Homo sapiens: one gene and its partners. The gene in region 2 interacts genetically with the main gene of each other region. Each region holds a gene or a part of one and is shown on either strand. Other genes may lie near its edges. The genes, in order: MED1, MED9, MBTPS2, MED24, MED23 and METAP2.

Evidence for each region.
Region 1: changes in MED9 (region 2) and MED1 together harm fitness more than expected from each alone (negative genetic interaction), as found in Homo sapiens cells (one large-scale study listed by BioGRID).
Region 3: changes in MED9 (region 2) and MBTPS2 together harm fitness more than expected from each alone (negative genetic interaction), as found in Homo sapiens cells (one large-scale study listed by BioGRID).
Region 4: changes in MED9 (region 2) and MED24 together harm fitness more than expected from each alone (negative genetic interaction), as found in Homo sapiens cells (one large-scale study listed by BioGRID).
Region 5: changes in MED9 (region 2) and MED23 together harm fitness more than expected from each alone (negative genetic interaction), as found in Homo sapiens cells (one large-scale study listed by BioGRID).
Region 6: changes in MED9 (region 2) and METAP2 together harm fitness more than expected from each alone (negative genetic interaction), as found in Homo sapiens cells (one large-scale study listed by BioGRID).

What each region holds. Positions count from the first base shown.
Region 1 is NC_000017.11:39,409,764-39,413,263, forward strand, and holds part of MED1 (mediator of RNA polymerase II transcription subunit 1), read right to left. Parts: intron 959-3,500; coding exon 1-958. UniProt on the Homo sapiens protein: Component of the Mediator complex, a coactivator involved in the regulated transcription of nearly all RNA polymerase II-dependent genes.
Region 2 is NC_000017.11:17,487,000-17,490,360, reverse strand, and holds part of MED9 (mediator of RNA polymerase II transcription subunit 9), read right to left. Parts: intron 1-3,361.
Region 3 is NC_000023.11:21,853,117-21,856,616, reverse strand, and holds part of MBTPS2 (membrane-bound transcription factor site-2 protease), read right to left. Parts: intron 3,242-3,500; coding exon 3,114-3,241; intron 631-3,113; exon of another isoform or gene 133-630; coding exon of another isoform or gene 1-132. Other genes in the region: transcription factor YY2, read right to left, coding at 1-132. UniProt on the Homo sapiens protein: Zinc metalloprotease that mediates intramembrane proteolysis of proteins such as ATF6, ATF6B, SREBF1/SREBP1 and SREBF2/SREBP2.
Region 4 is NC_000017.11:40,030,409-40,033,908, forward strand, and holds part of MED24 (mediator of RNA polymerase II transcription subunit 24), read right to left. Parts: intron 3,049-3,500; coding exon 2,937-3,048; intron 2,799-2,936; coding exon 2,648-2,798; intron 2,355-2,647; coding exon 2,241-2,354; intron 1,683-2,240; coding exon 1,635-1,682; intron 1,213-1,634; coding exon 1,130-1,212; intron 838-1,129; coding exon 751-837; intron 1-750. UniProt on the Homo sapiens protein: Component of the Mediator complex, a coactivator involved in the regulated transcription of nearly all RNA polymerase II-dependent genes.
Region 5 is NC_000006.12:131,618,243-131,621,742, forward strand, and holds part of MED23 (mediator of RNA polymerase II transcription subunit 23), read right to left. Parts: intron 2,488-3,500; coding exon 2,386-2,487; intron 1,655-2,385; coding exon 1,585-1,654; intron 278-1,584; coding exon 165-277; intron 1-164. UniProt on the Homo sapiens protein: Required for transcriptional activation subsequent to the assembly of the pre-initiation complex. Component of the Mediator complex, a coactivator involved in the regulated transcription of nearly all RNA polymerase II-dependent genes.
Region 6 is NC_000012.12:95,477,152-95,480,651, reverse strand, and holds part of METAP2 (methionine aminopeptidase 2), read right to left. Parts: intron 1-3,500. UniProt on the Homo sapiens protein: Cotranslationally removes the N-terminal methionine from nascent proteins. The N-terminal methionine is often cleaved when the second residue in the primary sequence is small and uncharged (Met-Ala-, Cys, Gly, Pro, Ser, Thr, or Val).

The DNA of each region.
Region 1 (3,500 bases), about 22 Mb from region 2:
GGTACTCTGAGAATGCCCAGAGCTTGAAGAATCTCGAAGAGGGGTGCCAATGGCTGGGCAATCATCACTAGTGCTGGGAAGTTTAGAAGCTTCTTCTGCAATGTCTGAAAGGATGTCAGTTACATCTGGGCCAATGCTGTCTGAACTGGATAGTCGGACCATCCTTTGAATACTGGGTTGGGGGTGAGGTACTGGTTGTGGGTAAGTTGTTGGGGGAGTGCTACACTGGCTTGGAGCTGGAGTGATGTGTGGCGTATCCAGCGTGTCAGCTGTCATGTTGACATCAAAGATAGGGTTCTGTGAGTCAACATCCATTGAAAATAGCTCCCTCTGAAAGTCATCTTCAGTCTGGTGCTTTGGTTTCTCAGGTGGTAATCTTGATGACTTCTTTTTCTTGGTCTTGTTGCTCCCCGAGCATATTTCCATGCGGGGTGAGCCGGAAGAGGAGTTCTGCCTTTCTAAAGGGCTGCTTCCATAAAGGGTTGAGAAATCCTGGGCAGGATTATCTTTAAGAAGGTTCATGAGCATCGGGTGGTTCTTGGTGTTGCCGGCCATCGAAGAGACAGGTGGCGGCGTGTGATGAGGAGGGGTCGGACTCGAGCCAATGGTAGACCCCCCGTTCCCTGTGATTTGCAACAAACTGGTAAGAATTGGGTTCTGAGACACCTTGCTGAAGTCCTCCCCATGGCCCACCGACTCATGCCGATCTTTGATGCTCATGCTCATATTAAACAAGGTGGTAATGGGACCCCCCGGAAAGGTGTTGGTTGGTGTAGTGGTACCACTCATTGGGTTGTTGCCTGTGGTCATGCCATACCCTGGGCTGCTAGCCGGGGGCAGGTTCTTTTTCACCATGTCTTCAACTGTCTCTGCAATGAGGGACAGTGCTGGGGTGTCGGCTTGAATGGTTTCAGCTTTCCTCCGAATAGCCCTCATCGTCACAGGGATGGACATACATCTGCAAAATAAAGAAGAAAACAAAGTTAACATTGCAATAGCTGCTGAATGAGACCTGAGATTTAGATATAACATCAGAGTTTTGCAGTAAGCAGTTTTCAGGTAGGGCAAATAATCTGTAAGACAAAAATAGTTCTATCAAATACCAGAGCTTTGGGTAAATACATTCTAAAAATCTAACCCAACATAAAATTGTCAACCTCTTATGAATCACACAACAAAAGCAAACTATAAACAAGAGTCCAAATAATTGAATTTCAAACTTAACTAAAAGAAAATTGGTAATAATGGAACTCAGTAAGAAAATGCCTCCTTAGGGGCCGGGCACAGTGGCTCACGCCTGTAATCCCAGCACTTTGGGAGGCCAAGGCGGCTGGAACATGAGGTCAGGAGATCGACACCATCCTGGCCAACATGGTGAAACCCCGTCTCTACTAAAAATACAAAAATTAGCTGGGCGTGGTGGCGCGTGCCTGTAATCCCAGCTACTCGGGAGGTTGAGGCAGGAGAATTGCTTGAACAAGGGAGGCGGAGGTTGCATTGCACTGAGATCACACCACTGCACTCCAGCTTGGCAACAGAGTGAGACTCCGTCTCAAAAAAAAAAATGCCTCCTTAGGTCGGGCGCGGTGGCTCACTCCTGCAATCCCAGCACTTTGGAAGGCCGAGGAGGGTGGATCACTTCGGGTCAGGAGTTTGAGACCAGCCTGGCCAGCGGGGTGAAACCCTGTCTCTACTAAAAATACAAAAAATTAGCCAGCCGTGGCGGTGCACAGCTGTAATCCCAGCTACTCAGGAAGGGTAGACAGGAGAATCACTTGAACCCAGGAGGCAGAGATCGCAGCGAGCCAAGATCGTCCCATTGCACGCCAGCCTTGGTGACAGTGCAAGACTTCATTTCAAAGGAAAAAAGAAAATGTCGTCCTCTGGGGGGCTTCATATGGTAATTACAGGGATACATAATTTATTTTAATTAAGGAACCATTAGAAAAATCTCCGCCGGTCAGAGTGGCTCACGCCTGTAATCCCAGCACTTTGGGAGGCCGAGGCGGGTGGATCACAGGGTCAGGAGTTTTGAGACCAGCCTGGCCAACATAGTGAAACCCCATCTCTACTAAAAAAAAGAAAAAATACAAAAAATTAGCTGGGCATGGTGGCAGGTGCCTGTAATCCCAACTACTTGGGAGGCTGAGGCAGAATTGCTTGAACCCGGGAAGCAGAGGTTGCAGTGAGCTGAGATTGTGCCATGGCACTCCAGCCCAGGTGACAGTACAAGACTCCATCTCAAAAAAAAAAAAAAGAAAAGAAAAATCTCTTGACCCATTAAGTACTAAACCTTAATGACTTAGATCATCCCAAACCTACACTATTATAAAAAGTGCTATTTCTGTTATAAATCTTGTTTATTTTAAAGCAAAGCACTTTTTATTTTCCAGATAAATTTATATTCATAAACCTCAGTTTGCAAACGTTTTGCTCTAGAACATATGTCAGCAAATTTTTTTTTCTTTTTTTTTTTTTTTTTGAGACGGAGTTTTGCTCTTGTTGCCCAGGCTGGAGTGCAATGGCGCGATCTTGGCTCACTGCAACCTCCACCTCCCAGGTTCAAGTGATTCTCCTGCCTCAGCCTCTCGAGTAGCTGGGATTACAGCCATGCGCCATCACGCCCAGCTAATTCTGTATTTTTAGTAGAGACAGGGTTTCTCCATGTCAGTCAGGCTGGTCTCGAACTCCTGACCTCAGGCGATCCACCCACCTCCCAAAGTGCTGGGATTATAGGCGTGAGCCACCACACCCAGCCAGCAAATTTTTCTTTTTTTTTTTTTTTTTTTCTTTGAGACAGAGTCTCGCTCTGTTATCCAGGCTGGAGTGCAGTGGCATGATCTTGGCTTACCGCAACTTCCGCCTCCCAGGTTCAAGCAATTCTCTGCCTCAGCCTCCCAAGTAGCTGGGATTACAGAAGCCCGCCACCACGCCCAGCTAATTTTTGTATTTTTAGTAGAGATGGGGTTTCACCATCTTGGCCAGGCTGGTCTTGAACTCCTGACCTCGTGATTTACCCGCCTCAGCCTCCCAAAGTGCTAGGATTACAGGGGTGACCCCCGCACCCGGCCGCAAATTTTTCTTATAAGGCCATATAGTAATCCGTTAGGCTTTGTAGGTCTTGTTTCCTGTTCACCTACTCTGCAATATTAACTAGAAATCTGCCACAGACATGTAAATGAACAGCAGTGTTCCAATAAAATTTATTTACAAAAATAGGCTGCCAGACCCAGCTGTAGAAAAATCTCAAAAAATTACATATTAATGGTTCTGGGATGCATACTGGCTTAACTATCACGTAACAATTAAGTTGGCTTTTTGTTTGTTTTGAGATGGCATCTTGCTCTGTCTACCAGGCTGGAGTGGAGTGGCACAATCTCGGCTCACTGCAGCCTCCGCCTCCCAGGTTCAAGCAATTCTCCCGCCTCAGCCTCCTGAGTAGCTGGGATTATAGGCACCTGCCACCACACCTGGCTAATTTTTATATTTTTATTTATTTA
Region 2 (3,361 bases):
CGGTTCAAGCAATTCTCCTGCCTCAGCCTCCTGAGTAGCTGGGATTACAGGCGCATGCCAACACGCCCGGATAATTTTTGTATTTTTAGTAGAGACAGGGTTTCACCATGTTGGCCAGGCTGGTCTTGAACTCCTGACCTCAGGTGATCCACCTGCCTCGGCCTCCCAAAGTGCTGGGATTACAGGCATGAGCCACCACACTCAGCTTCCTATACGTTTTTTAAAAGTTAGTAAGTGGATGAGCTTTTGAAAACAAGTGGTTGAGACCAAAACTAAAAGGCAATTCAGTAAGCTGTTCTGAAAGTAAGCCATTGAGGCATAAGAGGGAAAAACTGTCAATGATCATTAATTTTTTCAAATAAATGTTCATCCGTAGTGGGAAATTTCAACCCAGATGGTGCTAATTCATGTTTACTATTCATCATTTCTCTGCTTACGCAGGCAGAATATCCATCTTTCCTGGCGATCCATCAGTTACGTCTCACACCTTGCAAATCAGATGGCCACCATGGCCAGCTCAGTATTTACCAACAGCTCTAAACTCAGAGGGAGGGTATGGAGAATCAATCACTTCTTCCAGGAAATGAGAGGCCAGGAAATGATGCCCTCAACTGAGAGACACCATTAACAGTATACCTTATCGCAGATTCTAGAGAGGATGAACTGGTATTCATGAGAACTAAAAATCCTTTGGAAGGAAGCAAATAGGGAACGTCTTTTATTTTAATTCTTTGAAGTCTCAGCTCTGATCCACAAATGTGGACAGAAACCATCTGCACTTCTGAAATCCTTCTACTCGGATGGCATGCGTGTTAACATACCGTTACGAATTTAAGTCCCAAGGAAGTTTTAAAATTAAAATATAGTTTTTAAAAAAACCGACTCACATGAGTCTCAAAGGACATGGTAAAACAAACAAAAAAGTACTTAAAATAGAAATGTGGATGACAGATAATCCCATTCTTGAAGCAAACATAACCTGGCCCAAAAGAAAATTTAGTTCTGAAAGTTGAAAGTGGGTCATGTTTAAGATGCTCATCTCTGAAAACCCCCAAATAGCAAGGGTTGCGTGTTCTTTGGTGAACTTTCAGGAAAGGAGACAGTCTTCAGATAATAAAAAAGGAGCTGTAAGACAAGCCGCCTGGAGGGCAGCTGAGCCAAAAGGGGCCATGCAGCCCACAGGGAGGCCCCTCTGCAAGCCCAACTGCCCTAGTTGGTGGAGGTAAATAGCATGGAACTCCTGGAGTGAAGAGAACATGCTATTCAGAAGTGGGCATCTGCTAAGCCAGGATGACTGTGAAATATTCAAGCCAAAAGAAAAGGGACAGGACCAAATACCGAGTGAATAAAAGCAGAAAGCTCTAAGTGGGCCTACCTTTGTGTTCAAGGTTAGTCATCGGCCAACTATAGAAGGAATGAAAAAAGCCACTAGGTCAAGGAGGATGAACATCGTACAAACAAGGCAAGGTCAGAGCACTTTGGTCCCAACTACTGTGGTACTGTGGTTTCTTTTTTTCTTTTTTTTTTTTGAGACAGAGTTTTACTCGTTGCCCAGGCTGGAGTGCAATGGTGCGATCTTGGCTCACTGCAACCTCCGCCTCCCGGGTTCAAGTGATTCTCCTGCCTCGGCCTCCTGAGTAGCTGGGATTACAGGCATGCGCTACCACGCCCGGCTAATTTTGTATTTTTAGTAGAGATGGTGTTTCTCCACGTTGGCCAGGCTGGTCTCGAACTCCCGACCTCAGGTGATCCGCCCACCTCAACCTCCCAAAGTGCTGGGATTACAGGCGTAAGCCACCGCACCCAGCCCCCTACTATGGTTTTTTTAAAGAGTGGACAAAAATACTACCGCCAGGGGTGATCCTCTGAGCATCCTTCCCACGTCTGACAGACAGTTGTATCCGTGTCACCAGACTCAAAGGCAAACATCACAGGGTTTTAGGCAGGTGTCTGAGAATCATGCCCTGATTTTCTTTGTTCTTCTTTTTAGCATGGATGCTTTAGTACAGATGCAAACTGGCCAATAACTCTGCTAGAACCACTGACACAGACTTCCTCCCAAATCTGACAGTCATTTCTTTTGACCTTTTGGTGGCATCTGACTCAGTTTCCCATTTCTTCTTCCTCACAACTTCCATGCACTGTGCCTCACACTCCACTCTGTCCCAGCTGCCTTGCCCTCAGACCAGCCCTTACCAGTCCATTCCTCTGCCCACAGGCTCTCCTCGCACGGTACTAACTCCAGTGGCTTTCATTTTTCTAAGATCACTTTTTTAAAAAATGACAGTAATAGGTACTTGAGGGAAAAAATTCAAAAATGAGACAACCAAGGCTTAGAAAAGGGAAATCTCATTAACCCCTTGTTCCAGAGATAACCTCTGCTAACATGTGGTGTCCACTGTTTCAGATGGCTTTGAAATGTACAACAGCATACAAAACACACAAACTTTTCTTATTTGTTCTGACAGAAATGTGACCATCCATAGTTCTCATTCTTGCTTTTTCTACTTAACAAGGCACCTCAGATGTCCTTCCATGTTAACACATATACAATTAGACAGCGAAATTACCCTGGCTATTCATGGGTGGTTGTACTGTACTAGAATGACAGTGAACATCTTGTACTTATACCCTTATGTACTTGTGTGTCCGGAATTGGTGGGTTCTTGGTCTCACTGACTTCAAGAATGAGGCCACGGACCCTCACAGTGAGTGTTACAGCTCTTAAGGTGGCGCGTCTGAAGTCTGTCCCTTCTGATGTTCAGATGTGTTCGGAGTTTCTTCCTTCTGGTGGGTTCGTGGTCTCGCTGGCTCAGGAGGGAAGCTGCAGACCTTCGCGGTGTGCGTTACAGCTCTTAAGGCAGCATGTCTGGAGTTGTTCGTTCCTCCCGGTGGGCTCGTGGTCTCGCTGGGCTCAGGAGTGAAGCTGCAGATCTTCGCGGTGAGTGTTACAGCTCATAAAAGCAGCGTGGACCCAAAGAGTGAGCAGTGGCAAGATTTATTGCAAAGAGTGAAAGAACAAAGCTTCCACAGCATGGAAGGGGACCCAAGCGGGTTGCCACTGCTGGCTCCGGCAGCCTGCTTTTATTCTCTTATCTGGCCCCACCCACATCCTGCTGATTGGTAGAGCCGAGTGGCCTGTTTTGTCACGGCGCTGATTGGTGCATTTACAATCCCTGAGCTAGATACAAAGGTTCTCCCCGTCCCCATCAGATTAGTTAGATACAGTTTGGACACACAGGTTCTCCAAGGCCCCACCAGAGCAGCTAGATACAGAGTGTCGATTGGTGCATTCACAAACCTTGAGCTAAACACAGGGTGCTGATTGGTGTGTTTACAAACCTTGAGCTAGATACAGAGT
Region 3 (3,500 bases), on a different chromosome or scaffold from region 2:
ATCCTCGTACTGGACGCTTTCCGTCGGAATGTCCTCCATAGGAAGGGGCTCCACATTGATGTCGTGGAGCTCCACAATATCTGCCGGGATCTCCAGGTCTTGTGTGATGGAGAAATCTTCGTTGGAGGCCATGGCTGAGAGTTAGTTAGGTTAGCGGCAACGGGAAGACCGTGGGAAAAAGAACGCTGAGGGGAGTGAGGTGGGAGCTGCAGAGGAAGGGGCGAGCTGCAGAGGAAGGGGCGAGCTGCAGAGAAAGGCGCGAGCTGCAGAGAAAGGCGCGAGCTGCAGAGAAAGGCGCGAGCTGCAGAGAAAGGCGCGAGCTGCAGAGAAAGGCGCGAGACTGAGGAAAGCACGAGCCGGAAGGCGCAGGTGCTTCTGGGATAGCCAGACGCATGCGCCTAGGCAACTGGCGCGTCTGTCGGCCCCAAAAGCACGTGCACGTGCCCGCGTACGTTTGCCACCCTGCGACCCCGCCCAGCTGTTGTTTTTCCACTTTCGTAAGCAGGCTCTTTACTGATTTTTTATGTATTTCATTTTAGTTGATTTTCATGTCTTCCCCTCCTGTCCATCCCATATAACAGTATCTGCCAAAAAAGCCTACTCCTTTTATGCTTTTTTCTCTTATTTAATTGCACTAATACGACATTTAATATCAGTAATAGTTGATAGTAGAATTTGTCTTGTCCTTTAATAGGAATGCAAAGTGTTGTGCTATTATGATGTATGCAGCTATTCCTACTTTTACTAAGGATTTTTTTTTTTTTTTGAGACGGAGTCTCGCTCCGTCGCCCAGGCTGGAGTGCAGTGGCGCGCGATCTCGGCTCACTGCAACCTCCGCCTCCTGGGTTCGAGTGATTCTCCTGCTTCAGCCTCCAGAGTAGCTGGGCCGGGCACAGCAATCCCACACCTGTAATCCCAGCACTTTGGGAGGCCGAGGCAGGAGGGTCACTTGAGGTCAGGAGTTTGAGACCAGCCTAGCCAACATGGCAAAACCCCTTCTCTACTAAAAATACAAAAATTAGCTGGGCGTGGTGGCTCGTGCCTGTAATCCTAGCTACTCGGGAGGCTGAGGCAGGAGAATCGCTTCAACCTGGGAGGCAGAGGTTGCAGTGAGCCTAGATCATGCCGCTGCACTACAGCCTGGGCAACACAGCGAGACTCCATCTCAAAAGAAAAAGGGCGTTCTTTATCAACTTTCTTAATTTCTCCCATTGTAATTATTTGCCTATTTAGATTTTTTTGATTGCCTCTTGGGTTAATTTCAGCTATTTTTATTTTCTTATATTTATACAGGGTTTTGAAATTTTTTTTGTGGAGATGAGCAAACAACACTTATAATTGTTTTTATTTTCTCTGTTATCAATTGTCATTCCCCAATCTGATTGCTAATTGTCTTTAGATGCTTTTTCTCATTGTTCGACCTTTGATTTTTTTTTAAGAGCTCTTGGATTTAGCAGATCTAGTTTTGTTTTTTCTAATTTATTATTTTCTGCCTATATCCTTACTAATTACGTCATCATTTCTTAATTATTTTACAGTTCTTTTCTCACTTAAGTTTAATACTCAACTAATCTATTTCCATTTGTATTTGCATGACTGCCTAAGGCAGTGCATTTTTCTTTTAGCAAAACTTTAAACATTATCTCAGTAAAATGATTTCATCATCATAATTTTTAGATCTACTGAAATCACAGGTTTGAATTAAATTGATCCAAGGTGTGATTAAGATAAATTTCTAAATTTCAGGTAGTTTTTACTTAGTTTGCTAGTCTTCTCTTGGGAATTTACTGTGACTTTAAGTCCCATGGGCACTTGAAAAAATATTGTCTTCTGTGTTCACGGTATAGAGTTTGACATACCTATTTTTACCTTAGCCTAACTTTTTTATACTTATCTGCCATGTATTAAAGCGTGAGTCTTTTTATTACCTGTTTCTTCTTATACTTTTCCCATTTTTGTTTTGCTTTGATGGTTTGTTACTTGATACAGTAAGATTCACAACTGTTATATTTTCATTGTGGCTTATATTCCTTATTATTGTTAAATGGCCCCCAATGTCTAATATAATGCTTTTGGTCTTATTTTCTGTTCCCATTTGCATGTTATGTTCTGCTCATCATTTTACTTTCATTATTTTTGAGTAATTATTTACACAGATTTATTTTGTACATCACATATTTGGGACATGTTTTAAATACAAACTAAGGGCATCTTTCTTTCAGTAGGTGAGCTTATTTCATTTATGTTTATTGACAAAATAAATGTGTTTTGGTCTTAAATTCATTACCATGGTTTATCTTTTGATATAGGGTCTGTTTTCTTTGGTCTGTGTTTCATGCTTTCACTGTGATAACTTGAAAAGTTTATGTGTGTTTTTAGATCTTGTAGTATTTACATTTATAATCTTAAGTGATATACTCAAGCCTCTATTTCTTGATTTATCAGGTTCAGGCAGATGTCCTCTCCACTATGAAGTTGAGGAAATTAGTATTTATATTTCCCGTTTTTGTTTTTCCCACCTTCAGGTTTTTTTTGTTGTTGTTGTCGTTGTTAGTTTGAGAATTCTAACTCCACACTTGCTTAGCCTCAGTTATTCCATTAAAAGTGATGCAGGGTTGTGATGGATTTGTCGTATGTCAGTTTCACTCAGCTGGAACTGTGGTTCCATCTCCAAGGGATTCTGTTTCTCTGATTGAACTCTGACAGTGCTAGAGTTCACTACTCATCCTTTCATAACCCTTTTTTTCCATTCCTGGATACTTTTGATTTATCTCTTAGTCAATTCTTCATATTCTCCCTTGATTTGATGCAAATTTCATTCTATTTCAGCTGAGTTGACATTCTTCATAGTTTGTGATTTCATGTTGTGGACAAAACAAAGTTTTCCTCTGTTTTTAAATTTTTTAAAATTATGTTGTTTTTAGTTGGTTTTAAGGAAGCAACTGGAATGTAAATTATTTTACTCCTCTACTTTTGAAGGGGTCTTATAAACTGAAGTTATTAACCAAAAGATAAGATATTGTCATTTGTGATATATTTTCCAAAAAGCACTAACCATAGAAAATCAAAACCAAAACCACAGATGAATATTAAAACAAAATTAAGTCTGTTACCTGCACAAAATATCCTTAGCTGCTGGACTGGCGATATAAGTTGCAAATGAGTGGTGAACAGATCAACAAATGCTCCAGGATAAATAATGAAGAGAAAAATCCCAAAGCCATTAAATCGAACTTGTTCCCTAAGAAATCACATAAGAAAAAGGAGTTTACTAATACTATTATATTTATCAAATTAATAGTGTACATAATCTTAAAACTTTTCACTGTAATTTGAATTCTTGCTTAAAAAACAGAAAGTCTCTCTGAACAGCCAAAAAAATTATATCTATACTATATATAATCTTAATTTTATAATAATGTACAGATTTGGTTATCTGTGAAATTGAATTTTGCAAAATAGGGCATACTGAAATAGACATAACTTCAAAATTTTTAGAA
Region 4 (3,500 bases), about 23 Mb from region 2:
CCTCAGCCTCCTGAGTAGCTGGAATTACAGGTGCATACCATCGCGCCTGATTAATTTTTGTATTTTTAGTAGAGATGGGGTTTCACCACGTTGGCCAGGCTGGTCTCAAACTCCTGACCTCGTGATCCACCCGCCTTGGCCTCCCAAATGCTGGGATTACAGGTGTGAGCCACCGCAGCCGGCCTATCATTAGTCTTAAATGCTCTGAAAGCACATTTAAGATTAAAGGAAGATTCAGGATTTTTATTTATTTATTTATTTTTTTTTTGAGACAAGGTCTCACTCTATCGCCCAGGCTGGGGTGCAGTGGCATGATTTCGCCTCACCACAATCTCCGCCTCCTGGGTTCAAGCAATTCTCGTGCCTCAGCCTCCAGAGTAGCTGAGATTACAGGCACACACCACCACGCCCAGCTGATTTTTGTATTTTTAGTAGACATGGGGTTTTGCCATGTTGGGCAGGCTGGTCTTGAACTCCTGGCCTCCAAGTAATCCACCCGCCTCCAGCCTAGGATTTTTACTTTTATCACAAAGATGGGTATGAGTTAAAGAGCAGTGACTAAGAGTGTAAAACTCTGGTCTGAAGACATCTGTGCTTTCTTTTCCTTCCTGTTCCCTGTACCCCCAGGCACGGTCCCAGTCACTTGCAGCCCAAACTTTCGACAGGAGGTTGAAAGGCACGCAGCAGCCCCACCGTAACAAGAGAGAGGTCAAGGGGCTCTTGGGGTAGCACAGGTGCGTTCACACTTACCGCTTAGCCATAAGGTTGTTGACGCTGGCCTCAGACAGAAGCCCCTGCTTGCCACATTCTTGGAGCAGGAAGTTTGTACAGTCACAGCTGTGAGGGAGAAAGATGCTGAGGGAACTGGGCACCTGGATAGGATGGTGAGGGGTGGGAGTGGCAGGTCCCTGAGCAGCATCCTCCCTCTTTCAGGATGAGGAAAATCTGGAGTGCCTGAGGGACGGTAGAGGGGCTCTGGGGACTTGGCAACTGTGGGCTCCTATTTCCTGCCCCTGCCAAGGGGAGTGAACAAGGAGACAGAGTCCCCTGAGGCTTCTCTGGCACAGAGATCAGGGGAAGAGCCCAGAACGCCTTCCAGTAGGGCGGGGGTGACCAGGGGAGCTCATACTTGCAGCGCTGGTCAGCTTTGTCCAACAAGGGGGTGAGCTTCAGCAGGAACTCAAAAGCACAGTTGACATCCTCAGTGAAGTCCTAGAAAGAGGCAGAAGTGTCCATCTGGTTTCCAGGGCCACCAGGCCCTGATCATCTCAGGCAACCTTGTCTGCTGGAGGCATCGGCCTGAGTTGCCTGGCTGCTTTCTGCCTGGAGCCTGGGTGTATGTTGTGGGTGCACGCAGACGCTGAAGCACACACACTGGCTGAAGCACACGTACACGCTGAAGCACACACACGCTGAAACACACACACTGAAGCACGCACACACTGAAGCACACGCACATGCTGAAGCACACGCACATGCTGAAGCATGCACATTGTGAAGCACGTGCACGCTGAGGTGTACACTCACATCCGGCTCTCTTCCAGGCATGAGAACACTGCCCAGCTGGGGCCTGAAGGACCCTCCCCTTTGCCCTTATTTCTGCTCCCATGCCTCCATCTCAATCCCCAACTCACCTTGTCTCCATGAGAGTACTTCTTCAACTTCACCAAAACCTGTGGAATCTAGGGGGTGAGGCAGGGGGAAAAACAGGAAGATCCATTTCTTTTCTCTTTCATCTACCCCTGAAGGCATCCCCCCGAACCCCTGCTCCAGGAAGAGAGACAGGAACACTCCTACCCTGGGAGTGAGAGCACACTTAGTGCTAAATGAGAAAGCCAATAGGTGCCCAGGCCCCTGATGCCCCCAGGCCTAGGCACAGGACACAAGCACCCTGCACCTCCGCTAGCTCAACAGAAAAAGATGCCATAAGCAAAAGTGGATCCCCAGCTTCAAGGAGGACTGGGGCCCCTTTCCCTGGCTCCCTTTACTGCCCTGCACCTATCTGTCTGATGACCAAGCTAAACTGCACCTCTGTGGTAAGAAACAACGGAGTCTGCCAAATGGGCTAAATATAGCCCTGGCACTTTCAGAGAAAATGATCAATGGGAACTTGCACTGGAATACCTGGCAGGCTGGGCCCAGTGCCCGCAGGGAGGAACACAGGGCAAAGGTCCAGGGTGCCACTGGTCTTGCTAAGAACCATTCCTAGACTGGCTCTGCCCCTCCCACGTCCCCAGTACCTTGAGGAAAGTGAAAGCTGTCCACTTGAGCTCCTCCGTACCCTCGGGAGACTCAATGAGCCCCACGAAGCAAGCTTTCCAGATCTCCAGGACAAAAAGTGGGGTGGGGATATGCTGTGGGAAGAGCCAAGGATGAGGCCTAAGAGGGTGCCCATACCCCGTCACCCTTCTGTGGACTCTGAGGATTTGGCTGGGTCAGAGACTGCATGGCAGAGTCACTGCTCAGCTATGTGCTGAGAACCAGGGGAGTAAGGTCCAATGACAGAAGTGTGCACGACTGGCACCCACTTTCCATCATGGAGCAGGAGAAACCCCACTTCTCCCAGGGAGAACCAGAAGAATCCTCCCTCCTGCCCCCAACAGGCTGGCCTGCCTTGGAGAAGGGAGAGCCACTCGGCCCCTCCCACCTGCATGCGCTTCACCATCGTCAGCTGCTCCACCAGGGACTGCGTCTCGCCTGTCAGGTTCATGGTGCCCTCGAGCAGGATCACGGCGTGGACAGTGGGGAAGCCGGTCTTGTGCATCTGCTCCGCATGCACAGACAGCATCGTGGGGATGCTGAGGGGTCACAAACACAGGGGACGGTGTTTGGGGGGCCAAAGGTGAAGGCGGAGAGGATGGCACGGGTGCCACATCTTCCTACCCCAGGGCGTGTCCTCCCTCTCCCTTCTCCACCATCCCCCAGGGAGCCGGTACCTCCTAATGAGGGTGCCACACTGCTCGGCCTGACTCCGGAGCTGCGGGTTGCTGAGATTGGCCAGGATCTCTCCAAGTTTCAAGAGAGAATGCTCGATGGCAGTCCAAGAAGCTGGCAGAGGGAAGGAAGTACAGAAACATGATGGGAAACAGGAGAGAAGGAGCACCTGGCCCTGAACTCCTCGATTTTGGCACTCCCTCCGGCACACGAAACCACACAGGAAGGCTTCCCCTGAGGACAACAGGGAGGGAGGGGCCTGAGGGCAGCATGCACTGTTTCCAGAAGGGGGGTGGGCACCTAGAGCTGGAAACCCCAGAGACCATTCCCAAAAGCCTGATTTCCAGGGGACACAGCCAGCTGACTTCAGAAGGTATGGCATCACACAGGCTCAGGAGAGAGAGGCAGAGGGAGGCCAGAATCCAGTGGCTGGAACAGGGAGGGCGGCCACAAATCACTCGAGGAGTGAGCGGATCCCAAAGTCCAGTCTTGCAGAGGCTGTCACTCTCCTCTGGGGGAACTGGGTCCCTAAATGGCTTTCTCATTCTCAACCACTCCCTCATCTA
Region 5 (3,500 bases), on a different chromosome or scaffold from region 2:
CAGGGTATATTTAGATACTAGAATAACATGATAAACTATAAACTATCTTTCATTAAATATTTACTTCTTCAGATTATGAAGCAACAATTTAGCATCACATATCTTATAATCTAGGTTGAAGACTGTCAGATGGACTAAAAGTGCCATTATATTTAGCAACATACCTTATCATATGGCAAAAGGCCTTTCAAAGGAAAACGAAGAGTAGCAGGATCCAGTTTCCATGAATTACAAATGGCACCCGAATTATTTACAACTGGCAGAAGACTACAGCGACCTGTATGTATTACAAAAATGTTTTTAAGTAAATGTGAACACAGCAGTACTTCATTCACTTCACAAATATTTAATGAACATATATGCTGAAATAGGCATTGGTTTGGTTTAAAAATGGCTTATAAAAATGTTTCAATGAGACTGAAGGTTGGGAATTTTATTTTTAGTTCAGATAGTTGAAGATCAATTTGCACAGGCTTTCCAAAGTTGAAAATATCGCATTTTGTCTAAATGTCTAGGGCAGAGATCAGCCAACTATAATCCATGGGCCAAATCCAGCCTGGCACCTGTTTTTGTAAAGTTTTATTGGAACACCACTGCTTTTGCAGTCCAATGGCAGAGCTGAGTAGCTGCAACAGATTCTGTAGCCTACGAAGCTTAAAATATTTACTACATGGCCCTTTACAGGAAAAAGTTTAAGACCACTAGTCCAGTGTCAACATGATTAAACTTTATGCACGATATTCCTAGAGGCCTTAGATGTCACATATGACTATCAGCTCATACATCCAACTGCCTAACAAATATCGTCACTTGGATGTCCTACAAGCACCTCAAGCTTAACATGTCTCAAATTCATCATCCTTCTCCAACCTACTTTGCTTCCATAATTCACTACATGATATCAATATCCACTCAGTTACAAAAGCTAGAAACCTGATAATTATCTGTCTAGTGTCTATTTAGATTGTATTTGTATTTTCAGTATCTAGAATAGCACCTGGCTTATAGGAAGTACTCAATATTTGATCACTGAATAAACAATGGTCTATATTTCCACACAGTTGAGGTCACCATGATTTCTAGAAATAATTAAAGAGGATATGTGGGCACTGCAAAAATTGCCAAATCACATGGTTATTTTTAAAAGAAAGTTCAGAGACTCTAACAAAACATGGGAAAATGCGAAAGGAAAAGCAAAAGTGGGAATTAGAATGGGCTGAGTGAGCCTGACACTTTCACGTTCTGTAGCCACAGAGGGACAGGTCTGTTCAGACTTCCAGCTGCCTAGAAATTCCATGGTGCTTTACTAGCTGTATTAAAATGTCTTTCTAATCACCAAGAAACCCACTTCTAGAATGGTTTTAAATGAAGCTTAAACCCATTCCAGAGAGTTTCTTTTTCCTCCCTGTACTTGGCACACAGAGTAAGTGAAAACAAGGGAAAGGCATTATATTAAGCTCTTAGAGAGTCACCAAAATGACAAGCCACCAAGGCACATATTAAGAGAACATCCCTCAGCTTTGTTCAATAATTAGATTACTAAAAATCAGGTACTATTTGGCATATTTAAAATTATAATCCTACCACAAATGGAGTTTATCCTTGCTGTGGGCCTGAAGGTATCCACAAAGTCTGATACTAGGTTTCCAAGTAACTAAAGAGAGAAAGAAAGAGGGAAGTCAAATAAATACGTACAAAAGGAAAATTGAGACTGCCCCTGAAATATATGAACATTTATATAAAATGAGATAATATATGTAAAGATTGCACATGATAACTGTTTAAAGGTTAGCTCCCTTTTGCTTCCTTCTAAAAAATCACTCGCCAGTTCATCTGTCCCTTAATTAAACCAAGTCACACCACCATATCCTTAGCTATTTGATGAAGCTGATCATATTTTATTACATGGCATATAAATTCTCAATGGAAATGGAAATGAAAGAAATACATCATGATTAAAAATATACATATTATCTAAGGATAAAAGTCATCATTAAAAAAATAAGCACACAAAAATAAGATTAATATAACTGTTTTTTATAAAATACCCTTTTTTGTGTGTGAGACAGGGTCTCGTCCTTTTGCCGAAGCTAGAGTACAGTGGTGTGATCACAGCTCACTGCAGCCTCAAACTCCTGGTTTCAAGTAATCCTCCCACCTCAGCTCCTGAGTAGCTGGGGCTATAGGCATGTGCTACTATGCCTGGCTAATATGTGTGCGTGTGTTTTTTAATGTTTTGCAGAGACAGAGTCTTGTTATGTTACCCAGGTTGGGTCTTGAACTCTTGTCCTCAAATCATCTTCCCACCTTTGCCTCCCAAAGTGCTGTGAGCCACGAAGCCCAGCCGAAAATTTTTATTAAAAATTCAGGAAATATAAAATTTACCCAGTGTGGAAGTTTGCCTTCAGGATACAGTTTCCTGATCTCAGTGACTGCAAAATAGGCTGGTAATAAGCAGGCATTTCTTTCCAAGATATATGCTATAACCTAAGAAAAACAAAAAGGCCACATCATTCTTGACTAGTCCCACATATAAGCCCTTTATTTTATTTATTATCATTATTTTTTTTTTTTTTTGAGACAGGGTCTTGCTCTGTTGCCCAGGCTTGGAGTGCAGTGGCGTAATCATGGCTCACTACATCTTCAACCTCTGGGGCTCCAGTGGTGTTCCCACCTCAGCCTCCAGAGTAGCTGGGACTATAGGTGTATGCCAGCAGGCCCGGCTAACTTTTTAATTTTTTGTAAAGACAGGGTCTCCCCAGGATGTCCTGGCTGGTCTCTAACAATGGGCTTAAATGAGCCTCCCGCCTTGGCCTCCCAAAGCACTGGGATTACAGACATGCGCCACTGCATCTGGCCCATGTGAGCGTTTTAAACACTACAATGACAATGACAACAAAAAAGACATTAAAAAGTAGAGATGTTACTTTCTGGAGAGATGTTGGTCAAAGGACAAAATTTCACTTTGACAAGAGGAATAAGTTCAAGAGACCTACTGGACATTATGGTGACTATGGTTAATAACGATATAGTGTATACTTCAAAATTGCTAAGAGAGTAGATTTTAAGTGTTATCATTATAAAAAAATAAGTATATATAATATATATACACACACACAGACAATTGCTACTTGTCAATTAAAATAAAATATAGAGATATTATTTAATGGATTTATTGGGTTTCAACTGTAGCAAAGAATACATTTATATGTAAAAAATATCTAAAAATAAAGATTAATAAACAATGGAATGGATTGTTCATGGTTAGTAAATAACCTTGCACATGCTTTAAATATTGGCACACTTAAACAGGAGTGCAACAGACCAACGTAACAATTCTTGCGATACTAGTTACAAAGTACAAAGATCTTTTAAGTGGTCCATATGCTAAGGTCTTGTAATGTTTAAGCTATTTTAATTTCTATTTCATTGTTTTCATAATTTAAAACCATGAATTAAAATTTAAAATGTCCTTTTGAAATATAAGGGAACTAGCATCT
Region 6 (3,500 bases), on a different chromosome or scaffold from region 2:
AAAGGAAAAAGCAAATAAAAACATGAAAAGATGCTCAATATCATTAGGGAAGTGCATATTAAAACCACAATGACAAAGCACTACATACCCATTATCAAAGACTAAAATTTTAAAACAAATACCAAGTCCTTACAAGGATACGAACAACCTGAAACTCTCAACCATTGCTAAGAGGAATGCAAAACAGCATAGCCACTTTGGAAACCAGACAGCTTCTTAGGAGTTTAAACACATACTTACCATATGACAGGCAACCCAGTCCTATTTACTCAAGAGAAATGAAAACATATCTACACATAGACCCATATGCAAATGTTCATAGTAACTTCGTTCACAACAGACCAAAACTGTAAACACCCCAAATATTGTTCAATGTAAAAGGGTAAAACATATTAGGAATACTACTTGCAATAAAAAGGAATGTGCTATTGATAAATGCACAACTCGATGACTGTCAAAAGTATTATGCTAAGTAAAACAAGCCAAACACAAAAAACTACATACCGAATAATTCCATTTATAGGATACTCCAGGAAAGGCCAAAACTAGGGTCAGAAAACGTATCAGTGATTGCTAAGGGTTAGGTATAGTGCAAGAGAACCAACTACAAGAGACACAACTTTTTTCTGGAGATGGAAATGTTAAATGGAAATAGTCTGTATCTTCCGTCGTGGTAGTAGTTACACAATTGCATACTTTGTCAAAACTCACCAAACTATACACTTAAAAAGGATGACTATTGGGGCCAGGTATGGTGGCTCACGCCTGTAATCCCAGCACTTTGGGAGGCTGAGGCGGGCGGATCACTTGAGGCCAGGAGTTCGAGACCAGCCTGGCCAACATGGTGAAACCCTGTCTCTACTAAAAATACAAAAATTAGCTGGGAGTGGTGGCGGGCACCTGTAATCCCAGCCACTCAGGAGGCTGAGGCAGGAGAATCGCTGGAACCCGGAAGGCAGAGGTTGCAGTGAGCTGAGATCGTGCCACTGCACTGCAGCCTGGACAAGAGTGAGACTCCGTCTCAAAAAAAAAAAAAAAGAGTGGTGACTATTATTTTAGGGAAATTATATGTTAATGAGCCTGACTCAAAATGTATTGAATGAATTACCTCCAGCACACTGTCAGATGACCACAGGATCAACTTTTTATACCAATACCACAGTTTCCAATTCAGCACATCTAAAATTAAACTTAGTACCCTCTTCTTTGCCTGCAAACCTCTCCCCCAATGTCTAACTGGCTCTTTCCCAACTTCACTATTTCAGTCAACAGCACCAACATTCTGTCACCCAAGTGCAAACTCCCAGAGTCCACTAATGCCTTACTCCTGCTCCCAGAATGCAAGTCTCCAAGTCTTTTGAATTCTGCTTCCACACTACTGTTCACTGGATCCTTCCTCTCCATGCCTATTTATGACTATCAGTTTACATCTTCATTACCATATGCCTGGGCTATTTCTAAGAGGCCTCCAAAATGATCTCCTCCTTGCCTTTCCTACACACTTCCTCTCCTCTAAACAACCCTGTATACAGGTAAAGCCTAAATTATTATTTCATAACATTCCTTTTTTGTTAAGAGACAGGGTCTTACTATGTTACCCAGGTTGGAGTGCAGTGGCCAGTCACAGGTGTTTTCGTAGCATACTGAAGCCCCCTGGACTCAAAGATCCTCCCATCCCAGCCTCCCAAGTAGCTGGGATTACAGGCACCAGCCACTGTGCTTGGCTCATAACATTTCTTAAAAATCCTCTAAGGCTCCCTCAATCTATCACCTCATATGGCAAGCTTGTATTACCACAATGCTTCAAATGTTTTCTCAGCATTACCCCAACCCAAAATAGTTCCTTTGTTTGGTTTTACTCAAGTTCTATTCCTTCCAATGAGCCTTCCTTCGGCATTCAGCCCACACTTATACCACCAAATTTCAATAAATTTTATTACAGGTACCCAAATACCTTTTCACTTCTAGGTTTTGTCTGTCTACCACATCCTTAGTTTTCTTTATTTTTTCTTATTTTTTGAGACAGAGTTTCACTTTTGTTGCCCAGGCTAAAGTGCAATGGCGCAACCTCCACTGACAGCAACCTCCACCTCCTGGGTTCAAGCAATTTTCCTGCCTCAGCCTCCCGAGTAGCTGGGATTACAGGCACCCACCACCACACCTGGCTAATTTTTTGTATTTTTAGTAGAGATGGGGTTTCACCATGTTGGTAAGGCTGGTTTTGAACTCCTGACCTCAGGTGATCCACCCACCTCAGCCTCCCAAAATGCTGGGATTACAGGCGAGAGCTAACACACCTGGTCTAGTTTTCCATTAGGAGAAAGATCTTGAAACACTAGCTTTCCATTCCCTCAAAGACCTAACAACAGGTAAGTAGTATTGACTGACTCTGATTACTGAAATAACTACAAATATTCCTAAAATCTTCTTTAATACATTGAAGATTTCCAACCTGATGGGCAACTTTGTAGAGATGTAACAGAACAAGATAACACTTCAAGATTAGCACTGTGATTTTTTTTGGGGGGTGGGGGGAGGTGGACGGGTATAGACATAGGGTCTCACTATGTTGCCCAGGCTTGTCTGGATTACAGGCATAAGCCACCACACCCAGCCAATATTTTTTAACTAGCCTGACAGGCCCAGGAAGCATTATGATACCATATACACAGTGGGTCTATAGCAATCTATTATATTGCCTTGAATTTACAAAACATTTTCTTGTGAAGAGCTCAAAATAAGTTCATAATCTAAAGCATAAGCCAATGTAGAACAGAGGTTTAAGGAAGAGGAAAAGCTAGTAATTCCCTTGAATCTTGGCACTTTTTTCCACCAAATGTTCACTATAAGCTTCTTGAAGGCAGAGAACATACCACTCTAAAGGAAAACAACTACTCTACATTACCCTAACACAATAATTACAGCCCCAACTAATGGTTAAAGACCTAACCCCAGGCTGGTGGTGCTTGAGGGGGAGCAGATGTTCTCAGTAGTAGGCAGCTACAAATAAAAAGAATGGGAAAGCCCCATTTTTCCTCCGCCAAAAGAGGCTGGAAAAAAGTTAAGTTTTCTTACCTGTCTCTTCCTTCACTGTTTTACTGATAACATCAATTAGCAGTTGCTGTCTTTAAAAAAATCTTATTGTACCCAAACACCCAGAAGGAGCTAGGGTCAAGGAATTTATAATAAAACTTAGTGCACTCCTATACGATTCTTTCAGAATGAAAAGAGTTAATTTTGGTATAGAGAGTAAAAGGAACAGGCCGGACACAGTAGCTCAAACCTGTAATCCCAGCACCTTGGGAGGCTGAGGTGGGCAGATTACTTGAGGTCAGGAGTTCAAGACCAACCTGGCAAAACCCCATTTCTACTAAAGATACAAAAAAATTAGTTGGGCATGGTGGCAGGCGCCTGTAATCCCAGCTACTCGGGAGGCTGAGGCAGGAGAATTGCTTGAGCTCGGGAGGTCGCAGTGATCCGAGATCACGCCACTGCACTCC